Linked DNA regions of Homo sapiens: region 1 is linked to region 2. Evidence: fine-mapped expression QTL. A gene starts in region 2. The other region holds a variant in brackets. All regions are shown on one strand. Distances are between the middles of the regions.

Region 1 (5,370 bases), 27 kb after region 2:
GGAGCAGCAGTGACTTCACTGGACTTGGAGACTCTGGGGACACTGTGCCGCCTGCCTCCCAGGCACCACTCTTGTTGCTTTCAACGTCAGTGGTGCCCCCAGGGCACAACTCCAGTAGAACACAGTGAACACTGCCCCCGAGTTTATGCAGCGTCCAGCCCGGGATTGAGTGAAGTGCAGTCAAACAGGAAAGGTGGCCTGGGGAGGGCCTGGCAAGAAAGTGGACAGGATAAGCAAGCTGTCTCTGTTTAGGAGTCTAGTGGGTTGGCCCGTCTAGAAACGGAATGCAGGACCCTCAGCCCAGAAAGCAGACAGCCTGTCAAGAGTGTCCCTTCCTGGGCAACATCCACCCTCTCATGTGGTTCACGTGAGTTAGGACTCAGCCTCACACCAAACCAAGACGAGTCAGGAGGAGACTCCAGGACGCCTGGAGGGGGAAGGGTGTTGCTTCCAGGGTCGGGGACATCCAAGTGCCTCCTTTATAGGATGGCGACCATGTAGGGGCTCACTGGGGTGACCCGGGAAGCCCATCTTCTCTCCTTTCCTTTTCTTCTCCCTCCCAACGCACCTCTTGTCAGTTCCTCCTCATTCAGTTCTGGAGACTCTAGAAAGGTCGGGTTTGTTTTGCCTTTCACCTTTTCCTCCCCTCTCGCCTATGGAGAGATGTCCGTCACACCTGGTGGCACCGCAGGTGCACTGCGTGCAGTCGTTCTAACCCGTGCCCACCACCACCAGGAGCTGGACTCGGTGAGGCTTCGAGGTGTCTTCAGCCAGCTTTGGTGTGGGGTTGTGAGCCCCTGAGATGCATGTCCCGGGTGCTGTTTGTCCCACATATGCTGAGCCTTTGAGGTGTCTTCAGCCAGCTTTGGTGTGGGGTTGTGAGCCCCTGAGATGCATGTGCCAGGTCCTGTTTGTCCCACACATGCTGAGCCTTCTGCAGTCATCCCGTGAGACTGGGTGTCAAGGAAGAATGTGTTTCTTCCCCGCACCCCAAAAATGTGCGTGCCCGTACCCGCCACCCAAGCAGAGCTGGGAGTCTAACCTGGGTGAACTCTAACTTCAGACAGCGACTGCGCTCAGGCTGAAATGGTGACCTCAAAGGATTAGCTTGTCTCTTTCTTTTTCAAGGAAATCAATAATACAGGGACAGGCCTGTGTTGTTCTTGCTTGCTTGCTTTTTTTCCCTAGGAGCTGTCTATATATCTTAGACCAGGAATGGCTTCTTGTCTTCCGTGTGCTTTCCATCCCCCTACCCCAGCCCTCCCTAAATGAAATTCAGGTTGCCTGTCACTCACTCCCACACTGCAGCTTGTCTCTCTAGCTCCTAGCCAGGGACAGCGTGAACCCCCACCACCCCACCCATTCCTCCGCCACTGCTGCTCCTGTCTGAGCACGGCCCCTGTCCCTCCTTTCTTCCCGGAGTTGCTCCAGCCTGTCCCTTCACCTTGCTGAGGACACCTGGGTGACGCCTCCCTGAGTCACCCTGTGACTGCCTCCTCCACCCTCATCCCCAGTGCCCATGCTTTCTCCTCCTGCTCAGGGAGAGGGTTGCTGTTTTTGTTTTTAATGTCACTCTCAGGGACGTGGGTTCGGTTGACTGGCATTATGCCCACCATCCATCATGCCCCACGACCTATGACCTGTCCCCACCTTGGCCAATACCTATGCGCCAGTTGAGAGGATGATGCCTAGTCCCCCGTGCCACCGCCTCTATGGTCTCAGTACAGGTGCCAGACTGGGGGACTCAGTGTCACAAAGCAGCAGGCAGTGGCTTCTTCTCCCTACCACTCCCTTACCCAGCTCGGAAGCTGCTCATGGGCCTCTGTCAAGGTCCTGAGGGGTGACAGGGTCTTATGTTCTTGCTTCTAAGCTGGTGACCGACATAGCCCCCTTCACAGCATGACAGTTGGGTGTCTCTGGCCCTGGTAGAATGTGCAGGTTGGGTATCCCTTCCCCAAAATATTTGGGACCAGAAGCGTTTCTGATTTCAGATTTTCTTCAGATTTTTAGAATATCTGCATTATACTCACAGTAGAGCATCTTAAATTCAAAAATCCAAAATATTCCAGTGAGCATTTCCTTTGAGGATCGTGTCAGTGCTCAAAAAGTTTCAGATTTTGGAGCATTTCAGGTGTTGGAATTTTGGATTTGGGGTGCTTAGCCTAAACCATATTTCTTTACCCCATCTCCATTGTCTGTAAAATAATGAGTATAGCCTTGCAAAGACTTCCTACCCGCAGCAAGCCAGGTTTACTCCCGGGCACGTGGGGAAAACGGCAGTGTAACTTACCTGGTTGCTCATCCCTCACCCCACCCCCATTCACCAATTCCCCCAGGAAGTGAATGGAGATGGGAAATGATCTGTTGCCATGACCTTGACCCACACACACCCAGCATTCTTAACTCCTAGGAACCCCATTATATGAAAATCCAAAGGTATGAAATAAATTGGGAGGGTAGTTACTTGTTACAAAGTGATTCCTTACTTTACAGAAGGATTTGCTTCAGATTTCTCTTAAGTACTCAGTTTCCCTAGTGTATTTAAATGTTGTTCTGTGAAAATTAAGCATTTGTAAAAGAACTTCAGGAGCCCTTCTCTTGTGTAAAGGGAGATATCCGTGTATTCATAGGCAAAGGTGCAGAACCCCAAAGCCCGGTTGATGTTGCTGGAGAAACAGGCAGGCAGGGCTTGGGGTGGACATCATAGGCAGCCCACCTGAAAGCAGTAACCAGCGATTCCCCTTCCCCTCTCCCCATCCACATCCCTGAGCTGGGAGAGCTCCGCGGAGCTTGATAAGTATATACCCGAGCCCCACACCTGTGCACAGGCCAATTTGGTTGGGAAGCTTCCAGGCAGGGCTCAGTGGGGGAGTATCCATCCCTGCTGGGGACCTTCTGCGCTGAGCTTTTTCAGGACCGTTTCTTTGCAGGTCTCATCCTGATCCCAGTCAGACCCCGAGCCCGAGGCCTAAGCCCTCCTTGTTTGTGAGTGGTGCAGTCAGGGATAAAAACCCGGTGTGCCTCACTTCCCAAGCCACCTGGGCTGATCCTGGCCACTGACCTGTGCGTGCACATGCATTTCCAGTCATTCCCCTCGAGAAGCTGAGCCCCGGGCAGACTCCCAAAGCTCAACAGCCCAGTCCATCCCACACTGTGCACCCCGCTGCTTCCAGAACTCCCATTTCTGGGCAAAGAACTAAAAATAGTTTTTATTATATCTGTTAAGAGTACATCCCAGTTGTTGATTTCAGATCTCTCCCTGCCACCTTTTTTATTTTTTATTTTTTTCTTCATTTCACAAAATAAAAGTGTCAAAAAACTCCATAGTCTGTGGAATCTAGCAACCTCCCAGTAGTTTGAGAGTAACATGGAATGT[T/C]CTTCAATATTTTGTGCTAACTAAAATGAAAACTGTATATGCCAAACTGTTTGTCTTCTGCTCCGTGTCTGGCTGCTCCTTTTATCCTGTAGATCAGTCTGTGGCATTTGTGGTGGCCCTGCCAAGTTTTGTGAGGCTGTGCTATTCCCTGAATGATGCTTGCTCTGTTACAGGGTGTGTATCATAAGCAGAGCCTGATGTCTTTCTATATAGCGCCCCAGGGCCCTAGCAGTAATTGTTTAATTAAATAAAGCACTCACTCAAAAGTAATAGCCGTGATCCTTCGTGTGGCCAGTGTCCCAGCCAGCGGTGCTGGCCCTGCACACTGGCTCAAAAGCAGCACCTGTGTGCAGAGAAGAAATAGCTGAGTGTGCGCTGTGCAGTGCACCCTGGCCCTGAGGAGAGGAGCCACAGAACCCCAGAGGGTTTACAGCCAGCAGAGAGGTGCGAGGGACTCGGCTATGATGGCCCTTACACAGAGCTGAACGATTAGGGTGCACATTAATGATGATATCGGATGAATTAGCATAAGCCCGGATGTCTTGTGGATTCGCTGACAGTGGACCAAGGAACATTTTCATAAGCCTCAGGCACAAAAGGAGGCACTGGGGGTGTGGCAGCAGATACCCCATGTGAGTGTGACTCTAGAAGGGTCTTGAGCCACCGCAGGGCATGTGTAGTTTGGCAATGGCAAGAACTTCCTTCAACCATGGATTGAGACATTTTCTGAACACCTTGATGGGAAGAGAATGCAGGGACTGGTATTGGGTGTTGGGCACTGGCTGAGGCCGGGAGGCCCCTGCGGTCTGTAATGTCCAGTTCTGGCGCCTTCTCCCACACTACTGCAGGGAGGCTGTGCTTCACCTGAGAGGCAGGTGAACAGTCTCTGGGAACACTTCCCAGCTGGTCCCTTTCCCCTGGATCAGGAAAGTGTTTCTCAAGATCTGGTTGCCTGACCACTGGCACAAGAGTGCCTTCGGGCTCTTAATAAAAATGTAGATGCTTGGGTCCTGCGCCAGGCCTGATGCAGTATATTCGAAGGCCACAGGGCCCAGGAATCCGCATTTTCAACCAGTTCTGAGGAGAATTCTGTGTGCTTTTCCCTTTGAGAAATCCTGCTGGCGCAGATCTGTCGAGGTAGTAAAAGGTCTCCCGGGGAGAGGCCTACTCTGGTCTTCCTTCAGGAACTGCTTCCCACAGCACCATGGTGGAGGCAGCTGTCAAGGGCTTCCCGTGCCTGCCTTTTGCAGGGAAAGGAGAGGGGCTGGGCAACCTACAGGTGCTGCCACATCCTGGAGTCCACACCTAAGGCACTGCCAGAGAGAAGAGGGGCTGTGCGTGCCCACTGGCTGGAGGCTGCTTTGTCACTTGCGGCTGACGGGTACCTCCCATGTCCCTAGCGGGTGGTGCTCTAGGCTTCCCCTGTAGCTTCCTCTGAAGCTGCTGGTTGGGGGCTCTAGACCCCGCAGCGTGCCAGCTCCCCGGAGAGGGCATCTCACTCTGACCCCCGACTAGGGAGGAAGCTGGGGGCTTGCTGATGTCACTTCTCAAACCCGCTTCAAGAGAGCTCATTAATCAGCCAGCTTGATATGCCATCTCCCCTCCGTCCCGCCTCCAAGGTTACTCAGTTCCCGGTCTATTTCAAGGCCAGACGTCAGCAGAAAAGGGGTGGAGCCAGCTGGGCCTGTGCAGCCCTCTCTGCAGGGCACCCGTGTTCTGGGCACCTGACTTCCCTCCCTTGCTTCCTCCAGCTCCTGCTGGAGCGTTCCCACTGCCATTGCTCTTCCTGCGCCGAGAGCATGGACCGAGGAAGGGAAGATGCCGAGAGCATCTCAAGTGATCGCCTGGCACCTCTCCTTGAGTGACGCACAAGCTCCGGGCAACAGAGGGCGATGGCACTGCCTCCTCCTGTTCCCAGGGCAGGGCGGGGGATTGACAGCTAGACTCTGGGCACCAAAAGCCATCAGATGCCAGCTGGTTACTGGAGACGCAAG
Region 2 (5,370 bases):
TCTTCCTGCCAGCTGCACTGCATGGCATACTCCTGCTCCAGGGTCAGCGGCTCCGAGGCTGTCAAACGCTGCAGCTCCTCTGATTTCATCCACTCGTGGTACCTGCTGGGACAGAGGGGTGGCTTTAGACATGGAGGACTCATTCAGAGGCATACGTCTGACACCTTATGAGGGTCCAGAACCAGACAGGGCTAACATAGGGCTCAAAGAAGACCCAAAGGGTTATGATTGCTCCTAAGGCAGGGGCCACAGACACAAGACCCAGAAGCAAGCTAGTCTTACACAAGAACAGCAGGACGAGTCAGTTCTATCTGTCCAATTTCCTATCCTGTCTCGGGTCAGTGCGGAGGAGCAGTCTGAAACCAAACATTCTTCAAATTCCAGAAGGGGATGTATATGGCAAGCCAACCTCAACAAAGGCGGCTGGACAGATCCCACGAAGTTAGGGCACCAGGAACCCTCAAACGGAAAACTACAAGTAGAGAATACCCATCTACAGCACCACTATCCCAATCTACCAGACATGTGCCAACTGCCCCCACAGGAATCCCATCATGACTCAGTCCTGGCCTTTTGAATGGTAGATATCACAACTCATCAGCTCAGAGTTCAAGGACAAGCTAACATTAAGTCTCCAAGAACTGAACATACTCACTGGCACCAGGGAAACATCACTAATTTACAATTAGGTGAGAAGACAATTTCTTTTTCTTCCACGTTTAGTTTACATAAAGCAATTCCTTGCTGAAAGGCCAAAAAGCTGAGAGAATGAAAGGGAAGAGGATGGGCAGCTCCTCCCAAGGAAGTCACAGTCCCCAGGTTCTGCTATTTTTTTTTTTTTTTTTTTTGAGACAGAGTTTTACTCTTGTTGCCCAGGCTGGAATTACAGGCATGTGCCACCATGCCCAGCTATTTTTTTTGTATTTTTATTAGAGACGGGGTTTCTCCACGTTGATCAGGCTGGTCTCTTTTTTTTTTTTTTTTTGAGACGGAGTCTCGATCTGTCACCCAGGCTGGAGTGCAGTGGCGCGATCTCGGCTCACTGTAAGCTCCGCCTCCCGGGTTCACACATTCTCCTGCCTCAGCCTCCCGAGTAGCTGGGACTACAGGCGCCCGCCACCACATCCGGCTAATTTTTTTGTATTTTTAGTAGAGACGGGGTTTCACCATGTTAGCCAGGATGGTCTCGCTCTCCTGAGCTTGTGATCCGCCTGCCTCGGTCTCCCAAAGTGCTGGGATTACAGGCGTGAGCCACTGCGCCCAGCCTTTATTTTATTTTATTTTATTTTTGAGACAAAGTCTCACTCTGTTGCCCAGGCTGGAGTACAGTGGTGTGATCTCGGCTCACCACAACCTCCACCTCCCTGGTTCAAGTGATTCTCCTGCCTCAGCCTCCCAAGTAGCTGGAATTACAGGTGCCGGGCAACAAGCCCAGCTAATTTTTTGTGTTTTTAGTAGAGATGGCGTTTTATCATGTTGGCCAGGCTGGTCTTGAACTACTGACCTCATGATCCACCCGCCTCAGCCTCCCAAAGTGCTGGGATTACAGGCGTGAGCCACCGCACCCGGCCGTTTTTTTGTTTTTGTTTGTTTTTGTTTTTTTGTTTTTTTTGTTTTTTTTTGAGACAGGTTCTTGCTCTGTCACCCAGGCTGGAGTACAGTGGTACAATCACAGCTCACAGCAGTCTTCATCTCCTGGGCTCAGGCAATCCTCCCACCTCAGCCTCCCTAGTAGCTGGGACTGCAGCTGTGCACCACCATGCCTGGCTAATTTTTGTATTTTTTTGTAGAGACAAGGTCTCGCTACGTTACCCAAGCTGGTCTCGAACTGCTGGGCTCAAGCAATCCTCCTGCCACAGCCTCCCAAAGTCCTGGAATTACAGGCGTGAGCCACGGCACCCAGCCTTTTTTCCCCCCTCATATATAATTATTTCTCACAACCAATGTTTCTTCTTAGGGGAAATAGCCCTGAGACTGGGGCTGTACCTTACACAGCTCTGGGTGCTGATACGCACCCCATGTCAAGCGGGAAAGATACCTGGGCACATGCTCCGAGGTGTAGGGTACAAGGACCACCTTCTTCCCCAGCAGCAAGGTGTTCTGATTCAACCTCATGGTAGCAGCCTGCATGCAGATGGGGAGAGCAAAGACTTCAGGACCCTGAATTTCCTCCAACTTTGGGTAGGCGCTCCAGCTTTCCTGCTGGGGCTAAGTTGACTTCCGTCATTAGTTCCGTCTAGACACTTCAAAGAATACAGACTCCAAAATTCTTGCAAGAAAGAGAACCAGGCTGGTTAAGGATAATTAAACAATCCTTGACTCCCACTCCAAGAGGCCAAGCCTGGGCTCCGTTTCTGCCGGTTCCTTCCGTCCACTCCCCAGAACTTCGATTCCTCAAACCCAAGCACCAAGTACCAAGTACCAAAGTATCCCCAGAGCTCCCATTACTTGCCCCAGTCCAGGGATTCCAACCCAGAATCAACTTTCAGCCCTGCCTTAAACCTACTTCCAACCTCTTACCCCGGCGACCACCCCACGGGGCTCTAGCCACTCCCTCCCCGCCCCCGACCACTTCAGGGCAAGGCGGGCTTAGTCTTAGGCCCTCCCCTTTGAGTGGCGTTCTAGACCACTCTCTTCGACCCTCCAACCACGCGGACCCGGGTACTGCCAAGCTCACACCCACCTACCACCGACGAAATCGTCCCCCGCAGAAAGGGTGATCTACCTCCTCCAACCAGCCACGTTCCCAGGCCCGGCCGGCTACCGCCCCTTCCGCATGCGCGTGAGAACGCGCCCCGCCCACTTCCGCCATGCTGACGGCAGCCGCCAGGCCCCAATCCCGGTCCCGCCCCCGCGAGGCGCCCAATCAGCGCGCGCGAAAAAGGTGGGCTGTGGGGCCGGCGCATGCGCGCTGCGGAAGCTGGTGCTGGACAGCTGGCGCCGGCAGCAGCGGACCGGCGGGAGACGGCGGCTTGGGAGCTGGCTGTGCTGCAGGTGTTGGGTCGGGTCGGGTCGGGACGGGCGGGAGAGGACGAGACGGGTCGGGATAGGTTGGGGCGGGGCGGGGCGGCACTAGACTCGGGACTCCTCCAGGAGGGAGAGAGAGGGAGAGGCTGGGAGTGGGGTTCTTGAGAAAAGAGGGAGCTTTGAGGGTGGGGAACCCTAAGAGAGTAGGTGGGGCCAGGGAGTGGAGGCCCCATTAAAAAAAGGAGGCCTTAGTGCCAAGAGTGGAGTTGGAAGGGCAATGTAGGAAAGCCCCCAGCTCCCTGCCCTAGGCAGAGGCGGCAGACAGTTCCTTGGGCTCCCATGTGTGGTAGTGAGCTCCTGGTTCCTGGAACTAAACGAGGATAACCACCCCAGAGCGTGGAAAGGGGGCTCTTGTGGTGGGTGAGACTTAGTGGTTTTAGAGGCCCCTTAAATCACTTGCACCCCGAGCAGCATTGAAAACATCCGTGCTGGGCACAGAGCAGTGCCCTGCACAGCAAGGGAAATGTTAGAAGAAACCGTCCAGATTTCTGTCATCCAGGGTGACCCCTCCCTCGGGGGTGAGTCTTGTGACAGATACTGAGGCCCTAAGTGTCTGTGATAAAAGAACCAGAGGTGGCAGGGGAAGTCTGCAAGCCTCCTCCCACCCCTGTCTCAGTCCATCAGATAGGTGAAGCCTGCTCTTTTGTTTTAAGGAGCTGCGGCAGCCGCCGTCCTTGCACCTAAGGAACCTCTGCTGCCAGCCCTTCCTCACTTTTGGAAATGGCGGGTGAAATTACAGAGACCGGGGAACTCTACTCTTCCTACGTGAGTGTGACTTATAGAACCTTTTGCTCACTTAAGTGTTCCTGGCTTCTAGAAAAGCACATTGCTTGCTGGAGATGGGACTAGTGAGTGCTGCTGCTTGAGCAGACCATAGTGGAAGCAGGATGGGGGAGTTCCATGGGGCAGCGACTACAGTGCTGCTGTGGTGGCTCAGAATGTAAGTCAGATTTATTCTCTTTTTAAGGTGTTTGTCAGAGTGGTCAAGCCAAACAAAATCGCCATGCTGTTTATAATGTTAATCCCGGGCTGGGCACGGTGGCTCACGCCTGTAATCCCAGCACTTTGGGAGGCTGAAGCGGGCAGATCACCTGAGGTCAGGAGTTCAAGACCAGCCTGGCCAACATGGTAAAACCCTGTCTCTACTAAAAATACAAAATTAGCCGGGCATGGTGGCACTGTAATCCCAGCTACTCGGGAGGCTGAGGCAGGAGAATCGCTTGAACCCGGGAGGCGGACGTTGCAGTGAGCTGAGATCGAGCCGTTGCACTCCAGCCTGGGCAAAAAGAGCGAAACTCTGTCTCAAAAATAAAGAAATAATGTTCATCTCCAGGCTACCACACTTGCCTGCAGTGCTGCCCTTCAGATGAACAGTGATTGACAGCTGTTGACTCTGGGTTTTGCTCATCTCAGCAGTTGGAAACCGCTTTGGTCTTTACTGAATTTTAAATTGCACAACTTTTATAGTCTTGGATGGCGTAAGAAGCAGCGAAAGCATACAGAGACTTCTAATTACAGTTTGGTGGACTCTGCAATTAGAACAATTAGAATGATTGATTCTCACTGTCTTAGGTCTGTGTTACCTCTGGCTGCCCCCAACACACACGCAGTTTATCTTCTCTATGTAACGTATGATTGGTCATAGTTGTTACATCACAGGGCCCTCTTGCCTGGATAAGTAGCCAGAGGGTTGGAATAATCAGATGGTTGACTCAGGTTGCTACCAACCCTCCCAGGCAAAAGCAGCACTGCCCTAAGTAGCAAGAGTTTTCTAGAACTTGACCTGCCTTCAACAGCTGCCCTGCCTTGTACATAGCTTCCTAGCCTGGGGATCTCTGGTCTGTTTCTGCTAGCTTCACAGACTAGCATTGTGGTGTGATGGACAAGGAAGTGTCTCCAAGACATTTCCTTCACAGCTGGAAGAAAGCCTTCCTGATTCCAGAGTCTTCCTATTGGGCCTGTGCCATTCATGTGTGGCAATAAAGGAGCCTTCTTCACCCATCACCTGTGTAATTTCTCAGGGGAAGTCTTTTTTTTTTTTTTTTTTTTTTTTTTGAGACAGAGTTCCACTCTTGTTGCCCAGGCTGGAGTGCAATGGTGCAATCTCGGCTCACTGCAACCTCTGCCTCCCAGGTTCAACCTCTGCCTCCCAGGTTCAAGCAATTCTCCTGCCCCACCCTCCCAAGTAGCTGGGACTACAGGCATGCACCACCCTGCCCAGCTAATTTTTTGTATTTAGTAGAGACAGGGTTTCACCATGTTGGTCATGCTGGTCTTGAACTCCTGACCTCAGGTGATCCACCCGCCTCAGCCTCCCAAAGTGCTGGGATTACAGCCGTGAGC

Which allele goes with the higher level. Alleles are on the strand shown, and positions count from the first base shown. SD is a standard deviation of normalised expression in the study named.
For the expression in tibial artery of the gene that starts at base 2,916 in region 2, C is the high allele of the variant in region 1 and T is the other (small effect, 0.18 SD a copy in GTEx).

What was found. PIP is the estimated chance that this variant, and not a neighbour inherited with it, causes the effect.
Region 1: its variant is the best candidate, but not a certain one, in a credible set for the expression of SLC38A12 in tibial artery (GTEx, PIP 0.58).

What each region holds. Positions count from the first base shown.
Region 1 is chr17:74,800,629-74,805,998 of GRCh38, forward strand. The region is part of intron 8 of SLC38A12 (solute carrier family 38 member 12); the gene reads left to right. Among named protein-coding and RNA genes, the nearest start is that of SLC38A12, 27 kb to the left of the region's middle. The variant T/C (reference allele first, on the strand shown) is at 3,377.
Region 2 is chr17:74,773,584-74,778,953 of GRCh38, forward strand. It overlaps SLC38A12 (solute carrier family 38 member 12), which reads left to right and starts at 2,916. Exons shown (of 10, transcript NM_017728.4): 1 at 2,916-2,994; 2 at 3,681-3,792. The coding sequence starts at 3,748. NAT9 (N-acetyltransferase 9) reads right to left here and starts at 2,762. Exons shown (of 7, transcript NM_015654.5): 1 at 2,684-2,762; 2 at 2,039-2,124; 3 at 1-105. The coding sequence starts at 2,115. RefSeq lists an enhancer at 2,444-2,563.